4 linked regions of the Homo sapiens genome follow. The protein of the gene in region 1 purifies or fractionates together with the protein of each later gene. This does not show direct contact. Each region holds a gene or a part of one and is shown on either strand. Other genes may lie near its edges.

Region 1 (3,500 bases):
TTCTTTTTTATAAAGAAAAAACCTGGTTTAGAAATTAGGACATCTAGAGCCAGACTTAAAATTTTATGAAACCAATGGGCCTGACTGATTTAATGTCATCTCATAAATTATCAGAATTTTTATGTTCTCACAAATTAGATTGTATATTTTGTTAGTTAAAACTCGTTCTACCTTCAATTTCTGATACATTTGTCTAGGAAATAATAACTGGGAATTCAACAATATTTTAAAAGGTTCAATAATGGTCTCATCAAAAATAACTGAGCCCCAAATCCAAATCACTGGCTAACCTACCTACCCCACAATGGTAGATACTTGCAAAATTGTAATATTTAGATTTTACAAGTTACATTTTAGATTTTGGAGAAATCTCCCGCAAAATGAGTCGGTCTAAGGGATCTATTTTCATCTACCTACAATATAATCTATTATACCATACTCTAAGATGTAATAAACACTTTCTATACATATAAGCTGACTATGTGAAAGTGAGCTTATGTGTGTGTTCATCTTTGTGCAGTTCTTGAGATCAGTATGATTATTAAATCTGAGTGGAATGCCCAAAGAAAGCAAATTGATGCTAGGAATACTGCTGATTTTGGGTTCTCTTGAAACACTGAGTAATGGAGATTTGTATACTATGTTACTTTTCCCTGTTTATACAAATGGAGTTCAAAAATGTGAGTCTACCAATACTCTGTAAAGTGCAAAAACAATTCTAGTTTTATCAGTAATAGTCCTAATAATAAAAACCACCACCGCTTATTGAGTACTTATTATATTCCAGATGCCCTTTTCATATATTACCATGATTAATAGCAATCCTACTGGATACATCTTACCCTTATTTTATAGGTGAGGTAACTATTTAAAAAGTTAAAAAAAAAAAACTTGCCCAAAGACAGTCAGTTATCCAGTGACAGAGCCAGACTATGAACCTGCTGGCTCACCCCAAAGGTCAGGCTCTTGACTCCTTTTAATGTGAGTGAAGGGAAAGTGACAGTACTTGAGAGAATGCGACAGGCCCTGTCTTAGGTATGGCGCCCTGGGAGAAGCAGGAAGAGAACCAGTGGCTTCGACTCAGATTTCCCTTGTTTTAAAAACAAAAGCTCATTTCTAATAGGAACGTAGATGGAGCACACATACTCTCTAGTCAAGCAAATCATAGAAACCTTTCACTCCATATCCACTATTTCCTCAGCCAGTGCTCAGTCTCATTTCAACCATAACACAGTAAATGAATTCTGGCTAATACGAAGATAATTAGCAGGAAAATCAGGGAAATTGGCAGATGCTGCTCAAGCAGGAGAAAAAAAATTCACTGAAGCCTCTTTGGGCTTTTAATCAAGTGTGTAAGGTACTCCTTTAGAGGAGCTACTGAATAATTCTATTTGAGTCACACAAGTGATTAGGAAAAGGTAAGGGGCATCCCACAAGGGGACAATTCTAGTGAACACCACACGTAAAGGAAGGGTGACAGAACAGGTATGCAATCACCCTGACCTACACAGGGAGGGAGGCTGGGCAGCAAGAGGGCTGAGCAGGAAATGGAGCCCCTCATTTGGCTGCAATTACCACTCCACAGGGGGCTAGGGCTGGGGAGGGGAAAAGATACGAAGGGCAAGTAAATTAATGGATGTGGCATTCCTAAGGAGAATGGGAACAGGGAGTTAGCCTCCAATAAATCAAACGCTCCAGACCCCCAAACGCACAGATGAGCAGTGCCTCTTCTGAGTTTGGCCTGCAGGTATGATAAACACGCCGTGTACATGTGTGCACACATGCACAGACTGAATTTTGTGAAGTAAATTGCAAATCCAAGAGTTTGGGGGGACAACACCAGAAAAACATTTACGTCATTCTTGATTCCAAAATATTCTGCTGGAAAATGTCCAAAATCTAATAAAATTTAAGTTATATTTCTCTGAGAGCTCTAACCGTGAAAAATAAAGAAAAAAATAAGCCAATTCCATTTGACTCCCTCTGTGTCTCTGAAGAGCTACTACAGCTGAGGGAGTTACTTGATGGATGTAAAAGTGTCTGAGGTGGGGTCATTAGCTGCTATGTCCTGAAGCCCAAATGAGGTCTTTAGTTTAATTCCAGTATCAGCACATCTCATGATTTCCTTTTATTAATTCCCTGGATTTGGGGATGTATCAAAAAGCAGGTGGTATAAGATAGGACATCAGCTTTTTTTTTCCACACTAAACAAAAATAACATTTGGCATACAAAAGTAACTTTACTGAGGAAGTCACTTGGAGGTCTAAAAATATATTAAATGATGCCTAAAAATACCAGTTATGAGGATTCAGGCCAAATATTATTGTGATCTTTCACCTTAAAAATATTTTCCGACTCATTTTATATTGAGACGTCCTCACATTTAAACTGTGCTCACAAGGAAAATTTATGTTTTCAGTTTACAGAATAGAAACTTGGAAAAGACTACGTACTTTTTCTGCCCTTTCTTTTCCAAACAATAGAAAGCCATTACCTGAGCCCAGCTTGTTCTGGAACAGTGCTCACAGACAAGCCAGGCAGCCATGCTGTCTCTTAAGCCACTATGTTTTCAAGGCTGGTTTTGGCTGAGAAGCTTCTAAGAAGGTAATCCTTTCTGCATTGTCATTAGAATAGCTTTTTTTTTTTTTTTTTTTTTAAAGAGAGGCTAGGCCTTGTGTTCTCAGAAGGCTTATTCTTTCAGTGATTTTTGCTTTTCTTTTTTTGTGGATAACATACTAAACACTCTTCCAGGTTCAGTCCTCCAAGAGTTCTCATAAGAGGGTAGAAAAATCTCATTTCTCATAAAATGGAGGGAAACAATTGCCTCCCTAGCAAAGTTTACCAGCTTAAGAGCAAGGATCATAAAATCCACTTCTGGCATTCACAGCACATTTATTTTAAGGCAGTACAAGGTTAGTGAGTCTTGCCATTTGTTAAGAAGCAACAAAGGTTTATCAACCTGGGGAGGGCTGGTGGTTTTGGGAGTAGTAGGGGCTAAATTCTTACAGCAGTCTAAAAAATTAGAAAAACAAAAAGCAAAAATATATTGCAGTTTTTTGGGTGGATTTTAAAAAAAAAACCTTTTTTTTAATGGTCTTATTCATCTGTATGTGACTGCTGTGTGTAGAGGGGGTTTCAATGAACAGAACAGACTCCCAATGAACAATGGGATATTTAATGCAAATAAATGCTCCTACTGACAAAGGAGTCTTGGCTACTCACCTATTTTTGAAAAGACATAAAAAATTCAAAATAACCACATTTTGAATTAAAATAGGTATCATTTTCCAAGTTTATGGACCACAAACTTCTAAAACTAACATGGTCCCAACCTTAACAACTATCCTCACCTGCTCTTTTCTATAACATCTACTTTGAACACATAATGCTTTCTTCATTAAAAAAATACCTGTGGTTGTTTAAATAAAAAGTCGCTGGAAAGCATACCTCGTATTTTTTCTCTCATTAATGGTGTTTATTTAGAACAAACAGAATGAGA
Region 2 (3,500 bases), on another chromosome or scaffold:
GAGACCATTCTGGCTAACATGGTGAAACCCCGTCTCTACTAAAAATACAAAAAATTAGCCGGGCAGCCAGGCGTAGTGGCAGGCGCCTGTAGTCCCAGCTACTTGGGAGGCTGAGGCAGGAGAATGGCGTGAACCCGGGAGGCAGATCTTGCAGTAAGCTGAGATTGTACCACTACACTCCAGCCTGGGTGACAGAGTGAGACTCTGCCTCAAAAAAAAAAAAAAAAAAAAAAAGCAGCAAAAATATGCTCATTACTTGAGAGTCTTCTGCTACTCTCCGAGTAATACAGATAAAAAATGTGCCTCCCTCCTGCGTGCAGGACAAGAGAGAAATGCATTCTTCACCCACGTAGAGCCCTCCTGTCTCCCTTAGCACCTACCCAAGACATGGACACAGGCCCCCTTTCCTCCAGCCCTGTCCACCCGGCTCTGCAGGTCTTTCCAGAGGAGACAAACTGGAAACACCTGTCCTTGATCTTTGGAGAAAAACTCATCTCTATCACGCTGGCCTCCCCTGTGTCAACCACTTAGCACACAGCTCCCTCCCAGTGGATCAGATTAGCACCTCCAAGAATGAGGAAGTGGTTCTCCAGAAGGACCACAAGGTGCTTTTCAGGCCCCTGGGGCCATGGAAATTCAGCAGGACCAAAGTACACTGGGCCTGGAGCCCAAAAGGAGGAAACAAAACCCCACGTGGCTCCCACCCCTGAGCTCCGGAACCAGTGGAGGAGCAAACCTGTGGAGGAACGACAACCCCAGGCTGCAGGTGACAAATGACAAACACAGTCACAATAACCCCAGGACCTCTCAGGACAAAGGACAGTTCTGCCCCAGGTTTGTGGGATGCCAGAGCCTGGCCTATGTCACTGCCTCCTGTGCGTACCTTTGATCTACCTCCCAAATGGCCAGTGATGAAAGGGGTAGGCGCCCAGGGACACCTCTAAGAAAGGTGATGGATTACAAGGTGGAGAAGAATGCCAGGACCAGGCCCCTTTGTTTGCAGAGCCAGCCCGGCGCTCCAGGGAGGAATGTGCACAGGCCAGGACGCAGATGCCCCTGCTAATGGCCCAGTGTGCCCCAGGGCCCACTCTCCTGCCCGCCTGCCCTGCACAGCCAGATGTGGGCCTGTGCCTTTTATTGTGTGGCTCCAAGTGAGTGAAATGTTACACACTGCAGCTGTGTTCCAGGGTGATGGGGAGAGCGCAGATTCCTGAATCCTCCAGCGAGAAATAATCCCAGGGCCTGGAGCAGAGCCCGGGCTCTCCTGTAAAAAGAAAAGCAACTGCAGACGGCAGTGAACGGCCTTGGCCAGACACTTCCCGAGGACTTTCTTTCTTTCAGTATCGCCACGAGTGTATTCCAGTGTATTCAAAGCATCAACGAATTGGTCTCTACTTTTCAGGAGCAGTTTCATAAACTCTACACACAAGAGGTGCCACGTCACACTGTGGCTGCCAAGACACAATGAAAGGAGGTGACACACTTTAGTCCACCTGGAGGTGTCCCCGGTGTCCCCAGGGGCATGGCCTGGCTAGGAGTGGCACTTGTAATCGTCAGCAGGGCACCCGTATTCATCCTTCCTGGGTGCCGACAGGTTGCCGCTCGCTTGGGCAGCTGGAAGAAAGATTCCTAAAGATTCTTCTGATATCTTAGAAACAAAGCCAGGCCTGCAAAGGGCGTATTAAGTGCTATTATCTTTCCCCAAAAGAGAAGAGGAAGAGGAAGGGCAGACAATCTAACATGAACCATAATTAGAGCTGAGGGAGGAAGGAAGAGTAAAGAAAGGCCCAGCCTTGGGGTCCGAGGAAGCAGCTGGGGCTGGCGCACTGGCTGAGGTAGACAGCAGGCACGCCGCAGCTCCTGAGCCTTGGCCTGGCCACTCCAGGGGCTGGGCTGTGGGTGGGGACTGCACAAACCCCTCATCTTGGCAAGAACTCCAAGCATTGCTGACGGACCGGGATTCAGATCCAAGGCTCAGTATCCTCACAACACACACAAGTTACTTGAGCTCGCTAAGTCTCAGCGCTCTCTTCCAGAAAAGGGAGACCATCAGGATGGCATACATGCACGGTTCAGCAACGATCAGACTAGGGACAGAAAGTGCCCAAGCCACCTTGGGTACTTGAGTAGTAAAAGGAAGGGGGTCTTGTTAGCCGCGTTATTAGGCTGAGAGCTGGCGGGCTGTTTGCAGAGGGCTCCCAGGGCTTCCTGCCCAGCGCTGGGGTGGAGACAGGGACAGAGAGGTCTCTCCCCTGAGGGGTGGCTCTGAGGAGCACTTCCCTAGCTCTGGGAGCACCTCCCTCTGCCAGAGGGAATTTTCTAGATCACAGACATAGAATCCTTCAGTATAATCTTTCATTCATTTTGCCCAGGAGACAAAAGAGTAGTAGACTACTGCCTTCTAAAAAAAAAAAAAAATCGGCCGGGCACAGTGGCTCACGCCTGTAACCCCACGCTTTGGGAGGCCGAGGCAGGTGGATCACCTGAGGTCAGGAGTTCGAGACCAGCCTAGCCAACAAGGTGAAACCCCATCTCTACTAAAAATACAAAAATTAGCTGGGCATGGTGGTATGCGCCTGTAATCCCAGCTACTTGGGAGGCTGAGGCTGAATTGCTTGAACCCAGGAGGCAGAGATTGCAGTGAGCTGAGATGGCCCGACTGGACTCCAGCCTGGACTCCAGCAAGACTCCATCTCAAAAAAATAAAAATAAAAAAATAAAAAGAAGCATGTGAGAATCCTCCCCTTCCCTGACACAGTGAGGCATTCCGAGGGACCCTAAATTGTGTGCAGTGCTTCATCCCCAAGTTGATGGCCCCCATCCTCAGTCACCCTCATTTTCACTGGCCTCCTCCCTCCTGTTTCGCAGAGGCAACTCCCAGCGAGGGTAGGAGGCAACAGGTGAGGGATACCAGGTAGAGCTGCGCCAGGTGCATGGGGCAGGGGGTTGGGGGGGGGCGGTGGTTAGAGGTGTGTCTAGAGGGCCACGGTGCTCCTGGAGTACACTGAGCAGGACAGGAGATGCCGCCATGCAGACAATGGAGACACCCGAGGGACCCTGAGCTCAGCACTACATCCCACATTGCAGTGATGGATGTGTACCAAACACATTCCTGAGTCACAGAGTACAAACAGAAAGCTCACGAAACTTGGAGAGTCTAGTTTTCTGCTTTTACGAGAAACGGATAGACATCAAGGAAACCACTGTTCCTGCCCGAGCTGCACTCGAAAAGCCCCACGGCAGGACACGGGCCTGCATCCGGATTCAACATACTCTAAGATTCAAAACGCCCTCAATCTAGGAGAATTTAGTCCTGCTCAGCAGCATTTTGGTGGCAGCGATTTTTCTTGTCTCAGCGTTTTAGGAGCAGTGAGGCAGCGTGGAAACGACACAACTGTGAGCCATGATCCCTGTGAAGATGAAGCCACGCAACACGCCCTTCACTGTGGGGGCAGAAAGAAAGAACTGTGTTCCATGTTGTGATGGTTTTTAATACTCTT
Region 3 (3,500 bases), about 110 Mb from region 1:
ATTTCCTAGATAAGTTGCATTAATCACATAGCAATGACGTGACCATTTAAAATTTGTACAGTCTTCCTAATGAATTGTGCATCCCTGAAGACCTCCCAGAACTTGAAATAAAGTCACTAAAGAATTAGTACTGAGATGTCAGTGGTTACTTACATTTAGACAAACAACAACAAAACTCTCTTTAGATTCTATAGGTTTTTAAAATAGAATTTATTAAAATTAGCTCCTTACTATAAATATTACCTAAGCAGTCCATGCATTCCTTCAAGAAGGATTACAAAACAAGGGTAACGGGTGTTCCTTATAGCTGGAGGTCTATTTGCTCTTGCAATTAGAGAAGTGGGAAGGAATCTTTTTCATTGGGGGAAGGAAAAGATGAAAAATTTAAACATATCTCTTAACTTTGCTCTTCAGATGATGTTATAAGAACAATTAGCTATCTACAGACCATTATCATTAATCAATATTTCTGTATGAGCAGATGGCATTGGAGTGGGTAATGGAGGTAGAAATATCCAATGGAAACCACAAGGTAACACCTATAAACATTCACAGAAAGCTGGGGAAACATGGATGAATGGGCTTCCCCTTCCAGGGCAGTGGCACAGGCCAGCAAAGACCTCAAAACTGAAGACTATTATTTAGGTCTCAAGAAATCAGGCAGTTCATGAATAATTTCGATTACAATTGCCCCAGTAACAAACACATAGTCCATATAAGCAATGCAATGCATGTAAAATCATGCGGGCTGTTAGAAAGTTTATTTGGGTTTTTTGTTTGTTTGTTTGTTTCAAGAAGATAATGTAGCTCTATGCAAGGGTCTTCACAAGGGTACAACCTAGAAAAACAGGAAAACTAGTGGCTGCATAAAATAGCTTGCTTCTCTCTCTCCTGATTCTGTCTGAACCAATATTTGATTATATTTTATTCAGGGGCACCTCAGCTTCAAGTAAAGCCAAAACTCCTTTGCAGATTGAGATGGGGGCTGAAGAAATCTATTCATTGTTTCTGTTAGTCTATAGGAAATAGAAATTATTTGATTGTGACTTCAGGGCCAACCTGATTTTATCCACCACACCAACTCATTCCACACAGCGAGTTAGCTGGTTATTTCTGGAGATAAAATATTAGCATCATTGCATCAGCATCATTGTACCACACCTTTGACCAATTGCCACTTCTTATCTAAATGTCATATCATTCGTTTTTCATGATATGCCCTCAAGACCTGAGTCCTCTTTCCCCTAGTTCATTAGTGATTGATAATCCTCAGTGGGGAATTTGCAGGAGTCAGATATTGAAATATCTACACACATGCAACAGGTGTCAGATAAGTAGTGGTGCCTGAATCAGATTCTAGGTAAACCTAATATGATGTTAAAATCAAAACAGCTCAAATAATCTAAATCTCCAACTAATTTCCAGCATAGCCAAGCCCTGAAGTTTACTCAAAAACTGTAGTGTAGTCTAGATACTGTTTGGAATTATTATGGGAAGAAGAGAAGGGAGGAAACTTTTTTTTTTTTTTAGCTATTCCTGCTGCTCTCAGCTTTTATCTTATTCACTGATGCTGGAAAATCTGGATTAATTTATACCCTTGAGTATTATTAGAGGCACAGCCTCTATCCAGAGGAGCAGAACTAACATGACCTGCAGACATCCCCTGAGTTTGTATCTCTGTACCCGTAAAACTCACTGAGGAACATGGCTTTGAATGTGGGCCCAGGTATGAAGGTAAACAGGCTCTGCAAGTGTTTATGACAATGCAAGATTAACTTTAATATTTAAGGAAAAATTGACTTTAGGAAAAGCAAGCTAAGACAAAAATAGTAACACAAAATATTTTCTCCTGATATTAAAAAACAACCCTCAAGAGTTTTTAACATTTATCCATCTATGTAACTTTGCTACAACCTGTCTAAATTCATCCTTTGTCTCTAATATTGAAATTCCTCTGGTCAACAATTTTGTTGATTTTTAAAATATTATTTTATCCACAAATCTTCATTGTATCTTCTTCTTTAAATTGGTATGCACTTACAAAAATATCCACCAAAATATTATTATTATAAATATTTTGAACATGAAATTCATTCAGAACAATAACCAAACAAAACAAATCCCCCAGTGGCATAAAGCCCCAAATCTCCAGTTTCTCACATCTCCAGGAGAATTCCTGCAGTGAAAACAGCAATACTGGCACAGACAATATAAACTGTTACTCTGCTTGAAAAGTCACAAGGGACTACACAGGAAGAGCTGACTCTATATTGCTGTTTTCCTTTACAGTTCTAAATACAGGGACAACTTTCACTGTGGAGCTCTGACTTACATGAATGTTTTGTAATGGAAGCCAGTGCATTCAAACCACTTAAAAGCAAATTATGTGATCATCTTGCCATTGCAACATGATTTAAATTTTTGTGGACCATTTGTTGTAAAGATCCACTAAAGCATCAGAAGATATTAAGTCTCTCTCTAGGGTTTGTCTAACTTTCTTCTTAGTAGGAGATGGTTCTGAGCACTTAAGGGTCACACTTAGAAAAGCAACATCATTAAAACACATACTTAAAATCACAAGTGCACATGAACACCTAAATCTTTTAACTTATGAAAGTTAACAAAATCGCAATCGTGAATTTTAAATAAAATTTCTCATTTGGGGTATCTATCTAAGAAATAAGTGCTAATACTTTTGCAAAAACTGTGGGAACACAGTTATTTATTAAATATTTCAAGTCCAGAGGGATCACTTTTTTCTCATTTTTTTGTATAAAAACTGGTTCATTGTCCATATTTAGTTTATATATGTCATTTAGAATCCACTTACTGTTAGATGCTGGAACAGCCACGCCCTCATGATATTTGTGGCTACTTTGGGAAAGATGCCACGCTTTTTGTGACGCTTTTTGTCCTTATCAGGGTCATCATCGTCACCTGTGCTGGGGGAAGCTACACTGTTGTCCAAGCCATCACCTGCAAACATAGCGAATCAAATTTTGACTGATGCTACCTTGACATGCTTTATTCAAATAGAATGCCTTTGGATATAAACAAAACCAAAAGAGCAAATTTAAATGATTAATAGTTTCTTTGGTACTGTTTTTTTGTTGTGTTTTGTTTTCCAAGACAGAGAAAGAACAAGGCCTAGGCTCAAGAGCAGTCAGGTCTAAAGAACTTCTTCCAAAGAACATTGCCAAAAGTCAAAGGGAATGGAGGGAAATATCCAATCCCCTTGTGGCTTTGTTGCTATGGTAATTATTCCAATATGTATAGCTGAGACAGGTTAAGTGTAACTCCTACCGGGGAGTTAAACATGGTGGCAGTCATTAGCTGTGGCGCTATGGCTGCCTGGGCATTCAAATCCCACAGTCATTGACATTGACTTGTGAGAAGATTCATTTAAGATATCAACTATTTCCACAAGTGATCTATCTTAAGACTAGTTAAACTAGGATGGGGAAATGTAGGTAATCCATCATATAAGCAGTTTGACATAG
Region 4 (3,500 bases), on another chromosome or scaffold:
GAGGTGGAGGTTCCAGTGAGCCAAGATCACACCACTGCACTCCAGCCTGGGTGACAGAGTGAAACTCCATCTCAAAAAAACAAACCAAGATGGCCCGAATTTTGAAACTTTATACTCCTCACTACTCTGCAAAAATATCTGTGACCACTCTTCTGTTCGGTGCCCAGATGGTACACAATGAAGTATTGAGCAAATGCTTTTAGCGTTGGTTTTGGCATCCAGCCCCTTTTGGTAAATCTGCTCCAAATTCACCTTTTGCTCAAAAATTTGTCTTCTCCCAGAAGTAGATTTATTCTCTCCCATTTTATATTTATTTGGTGTGAGCCTTTTTGTTATTATTTCCTTTCTCTTTACAAAGGCGGAAGAGACGGAATTTCAACAAGCAAGCGACAGAAATCCTGAATGAATATTTCTATTCCCATCTCAGCAACCCTTACCCCAGTGAGGAAGCCAAAGAGGAGTTAGCCAAGAAGTGTGGCATCACAGTCTCCCAGGTAAGCAGCACCTCAAAAGCCTCAGCCTGTAGCCTGGCCATGGCGGGGCCTCCGGGGCAGGCTCTTAGAGGTCTTGCTTTACTGGACATTCATGCCTTGCAAGTTCCATCAGCTATAGCCTTAAAATATCAAGGTAAGCACTTGATGTGTATGCGTATAAGTGAGTTTCTAGGTAAGTACTTGGCAAAACTTGAGAAGAACCAGCAGAAGGAAGAGAAGAATAAGTAGAGTACAATGTAAAAACAGGATTAGGGTTCTTCCCATCGAGCACTCCTTTGCTTCAAATGGGTGAGGTGTCTAAAGTGTACTAGGAAAGTTATCTGCATTCCTCATGCTGTTTTTTCAAATTCAGTCAATTCCTTAGCCATTTTTTGCCCAACCCAGGAACTTTAAGAGTCAGTGAATGGAACTAGTTGTTATATAGCCTTTTAAATGAAAGAACTTAAATGTCTCCTCTTGATGTGCTGACTCTATAACTGATGGGAGTGTAGGAATTTTAACATGTCACTGCGATTACATTGGAATGGTGAACAAAATGTCACTGAATGCCCCCTTCCCCCAAAGAGCAATAACCATAACAGGTGGTGTCTGATGACTTGGAAAGATACATGACATAAAATTTTTATAGGCCTAGAGTTTTCAACACGAATATGAAGCAGAGAAGTAGGCAATAATTATGTGTACGTGTATTTTGTCCACTCAAAAGATCCACCCAAACTTCTTATTCAGTCTGAACCTCAAATACCACCACTGGTTTCTAATTGAGAACCATAGTGATAATTCTGAAATCTATCGGAGAAGGTTTTTCTTAGAATTTTGTCACATGCAGGAGAATTAAATGTACTGATATTTCCATTAAAACTGGGGAGGGGAGGGAGTAGTGAAGGCTACTGTAGCGAGAAATTTCACTTACCATTTTTCAAATGAAGTAGATGCTCTTTTATATAAACTAAGCATCTGTACCTCCTTGAATTGAATCCTGACTTCTGTTAATCCCTGCAGGGTGCTGATCCCATCAACCTGTGTTTAGCTGTACAGAATTAGGTCCAGTCAGAATATAGAGCTCCACAAAAGTATTGACAATGAAGGGACTGTCCAAGCCTTCCCAACAAACTAAGATGATTTTACAGCAGCAAATATCCTTGAAAACATTCTTTCAGATAAAGCAGAATGAATTGACTCCTTTTTAACCTGGGCCTTCCTTAGGTGCTTTGACCCAGCTGGAGGTCATTTTTAGTCTTGACAGTTCTGGGAAACGGGAACGTCAGCGGTCAAACTCAAGTAGCCTAGTTTTTTCTAGGGCTGTCACCATTCTTATCCAAATCTAAACCCCTTTTCCACAAAAAAGGGAATTAATGCTTTTTGATACTTGCTACATGTTTGAGGAATGCTTCTAGGTATGGACCACAAATATGCAGCAAATATCAAATCACTGAATTTTATCATGGAACCTTCTGCTTTTAAAATATAATTAAATTACTACTGTCTGAATTCCAAGTGTGGAATTCAGAATTTCAACTTCCTGTTGAAGGTAAAAGGAATTCTCCTGGAGGTAATTTGTAGTATAGCTGGATACAAGTTAAAATCCTGATCTGTTCCCGCAACCTTCACTTCCTTCATTATGGAAACTCAAGGTACAAATAGTGTGTCCATTAAAATCCTTATTTACATATTGTGTCACCTTTCCCTTTCCTCTGTCCATGCCAAAGTCATGCCATTCTTTCTTCCCCATCACATCTGTCTCTCCCCAAAGCAACTAAGCTACCATTGCTAAACAAGTCCAATGGAAGACAGTATAATATGATGTCATAGAAGGAGCATTAAGCAAGGAGCCTATTTTTGACAAGAGTCAACTGTGGGATCCTAGGGAACTCACTCTTTCTTTTTGGATCTTAGTTGCCCCATTTACTAATCATGGTTTGTTGGATCACATGATTTATTAAATCTTTCTCCTAATTCCCAAAGCCAGGGAATACCTCTTGGGCTGTATCATTATTGTCTTTTTTTGAAGTCACAAATTCTTTTGAAATCTACTAAAAGCTATTGATTTCCCCCATGACCCAAAACAAAGATATGTTGCCCATACACCCAAATCCATCTGAAATCCGCCTATTGACTGTATCTCCTCAGATCCCTAAAGAGCCCTTTTTCTATACCAGAGCTACTCTAAGTGTGATCCACAGAATGCAGCATCAGCATCCCCTGGGAGCCTGTTAGAAATATAAATTCTTGAGTGTCACCCTAATTCTGAATCAGAATCTTTGAGGGTGAAATCTATAATAGAAATTTGTTTTAACAACTTCCCCATGAACACTTAACTTTGAAAAGCAATGTTCTATATGCTTTATCTGAGTGATCTTTTCCATGCTCACAGCTACAAATAATACCTCCATTTGAATACCTAATGGAACTTCTCCCCTGCAGCACCAAACTCATAAATTTTACTTCCTAATGGACTTCATCATGGCTCTGCCCAGAGGTTCTTCAAAATTAACTTGTTCAAAATGTGAATCAAACTCTTCCCATAAAACCTACTATTCTTTCTGTATTTCATGTCTCATTCTGTGTCTGTTATCTATACATCCCTAGTGCCTAACGCGTATTAGGCCCTTAGTCCATGACTGTTGAGTAATTAGTTCATTCATGATAACACTCATTTTATACATTGTCCAGATCATTGTCTGTTGGACAATGCAGGAAGTCCCTGAACTGACCTAGCACCTTCCTACCAGTTCCATTGTTGTCATTTAGAAGGGTATCATTCCCACAACATGTCCCCTCTTTACCCCCTTCAGCTCATATTTTTTTTACATATAATTGGACCTCAGGTATTTCTTCTTCAAAAGTCCTCTGAAATTATCTTCATCTTTTTCCCTTTTCTTTCAGCTTGTGCAGTTATCTGAGAAAAAAAATCTCCTTACCTTTTTTCTTCTTTTCCTATCCCATAAATCAAAAAGCAACCATAATTATGACTGATTCCTATGAATAGTGAAAGTTATGTCAAGA

The links. The genes of interacting proteins can lie anywhere in the genome.
Region 2: the proteins of MAP3K20 (region 1) and TNS3 purify together in Homo sapiens (affinity purification with mass spectrometry, with the first as the bait; one large-scale study listed by BioGRID). This does not show direct contact.
Region 3: the proteins of MAP3K20 (region 1) and MEIS1 purify together in Homo sapiens (affinity purification with mass spectrometry; one large-scale study listed by BioGRID and IntAct). This does not show direct contact.
Region 4: the proteins of MAP3K20 (region 1) and PBX1 purify together in Homo sapiens (affinity purification with mass spectrometry; one large-scale study listed by BioGRID and IntAct). This does not show direct contact.

The regions. Positions count from the first base shown.
Region 1 is NC_000002.12:173,194,346-173,197,845, reverse strand, and holds part of MAP3K20 (mitogen-activated protein kinase kinase kinase 20), read right to left. Parts: intron 135-3,500; exon of another isoform or gene 1-134. UniProt on the Homo sapiens protein: Stress-activated component of a protein kinase signal transduction cascade that promotes programmed cell death in response to various stress, such as ribosomal stress, osmotic shock and ionizing radiation.
Region 2 is NC_000007.14:47,575,612-47,579,111, forward strand, and holds part of TNS3 (tensin-3), read right to left. Parts: intron 1-3,500. UniProt on the Homo sapiens protein: May act as a protein phosphatase and/or a lipid phosphatase. Involved in the dissociation of the integrin-tensin-actin complex. EGF activates TNS4 and down-regulates TNS3 which results in capping the tail of ITGB1.
Region 3 is NC_000002.12:66,511,625-66,515,124, reverse strand, and holds part of MEIS1 (homeobox protein Meis1), read right to left. Parts: intron 2,977-3,500; coding exon 2,831-2,976; intron 1-2,830. UniProt on the Homo sapiens protein: Acts as a transcriptional regulator of PAX6. Acts as a transcriptional activator of PF4 in complex with PBX1 or PBX2. Required for hematopoiesis, megakaryocyte lineage development and vascular patterning.
Region 4 is NC_000001.11:164,807,184-164,810,683, forward strand, and holds part of PBX1 (pre-B-cell leukemia transcription factor 1), read left to right. Parts: intron 1-358; coding exon 359-494; intron 495-3,500. UniProt on the Homo sapiens protein: Transcription factor which binds the DNA sequence 5'-TGATTGAT-3' as part of a heterodimer with HOX proteins such as HOXA1, HOXA5, HOXB7 and HOXB8. Binds to the DNA sequence 5'-TGATTGAC-3' in complex with a nuclear factor which is not a class I HOX protein.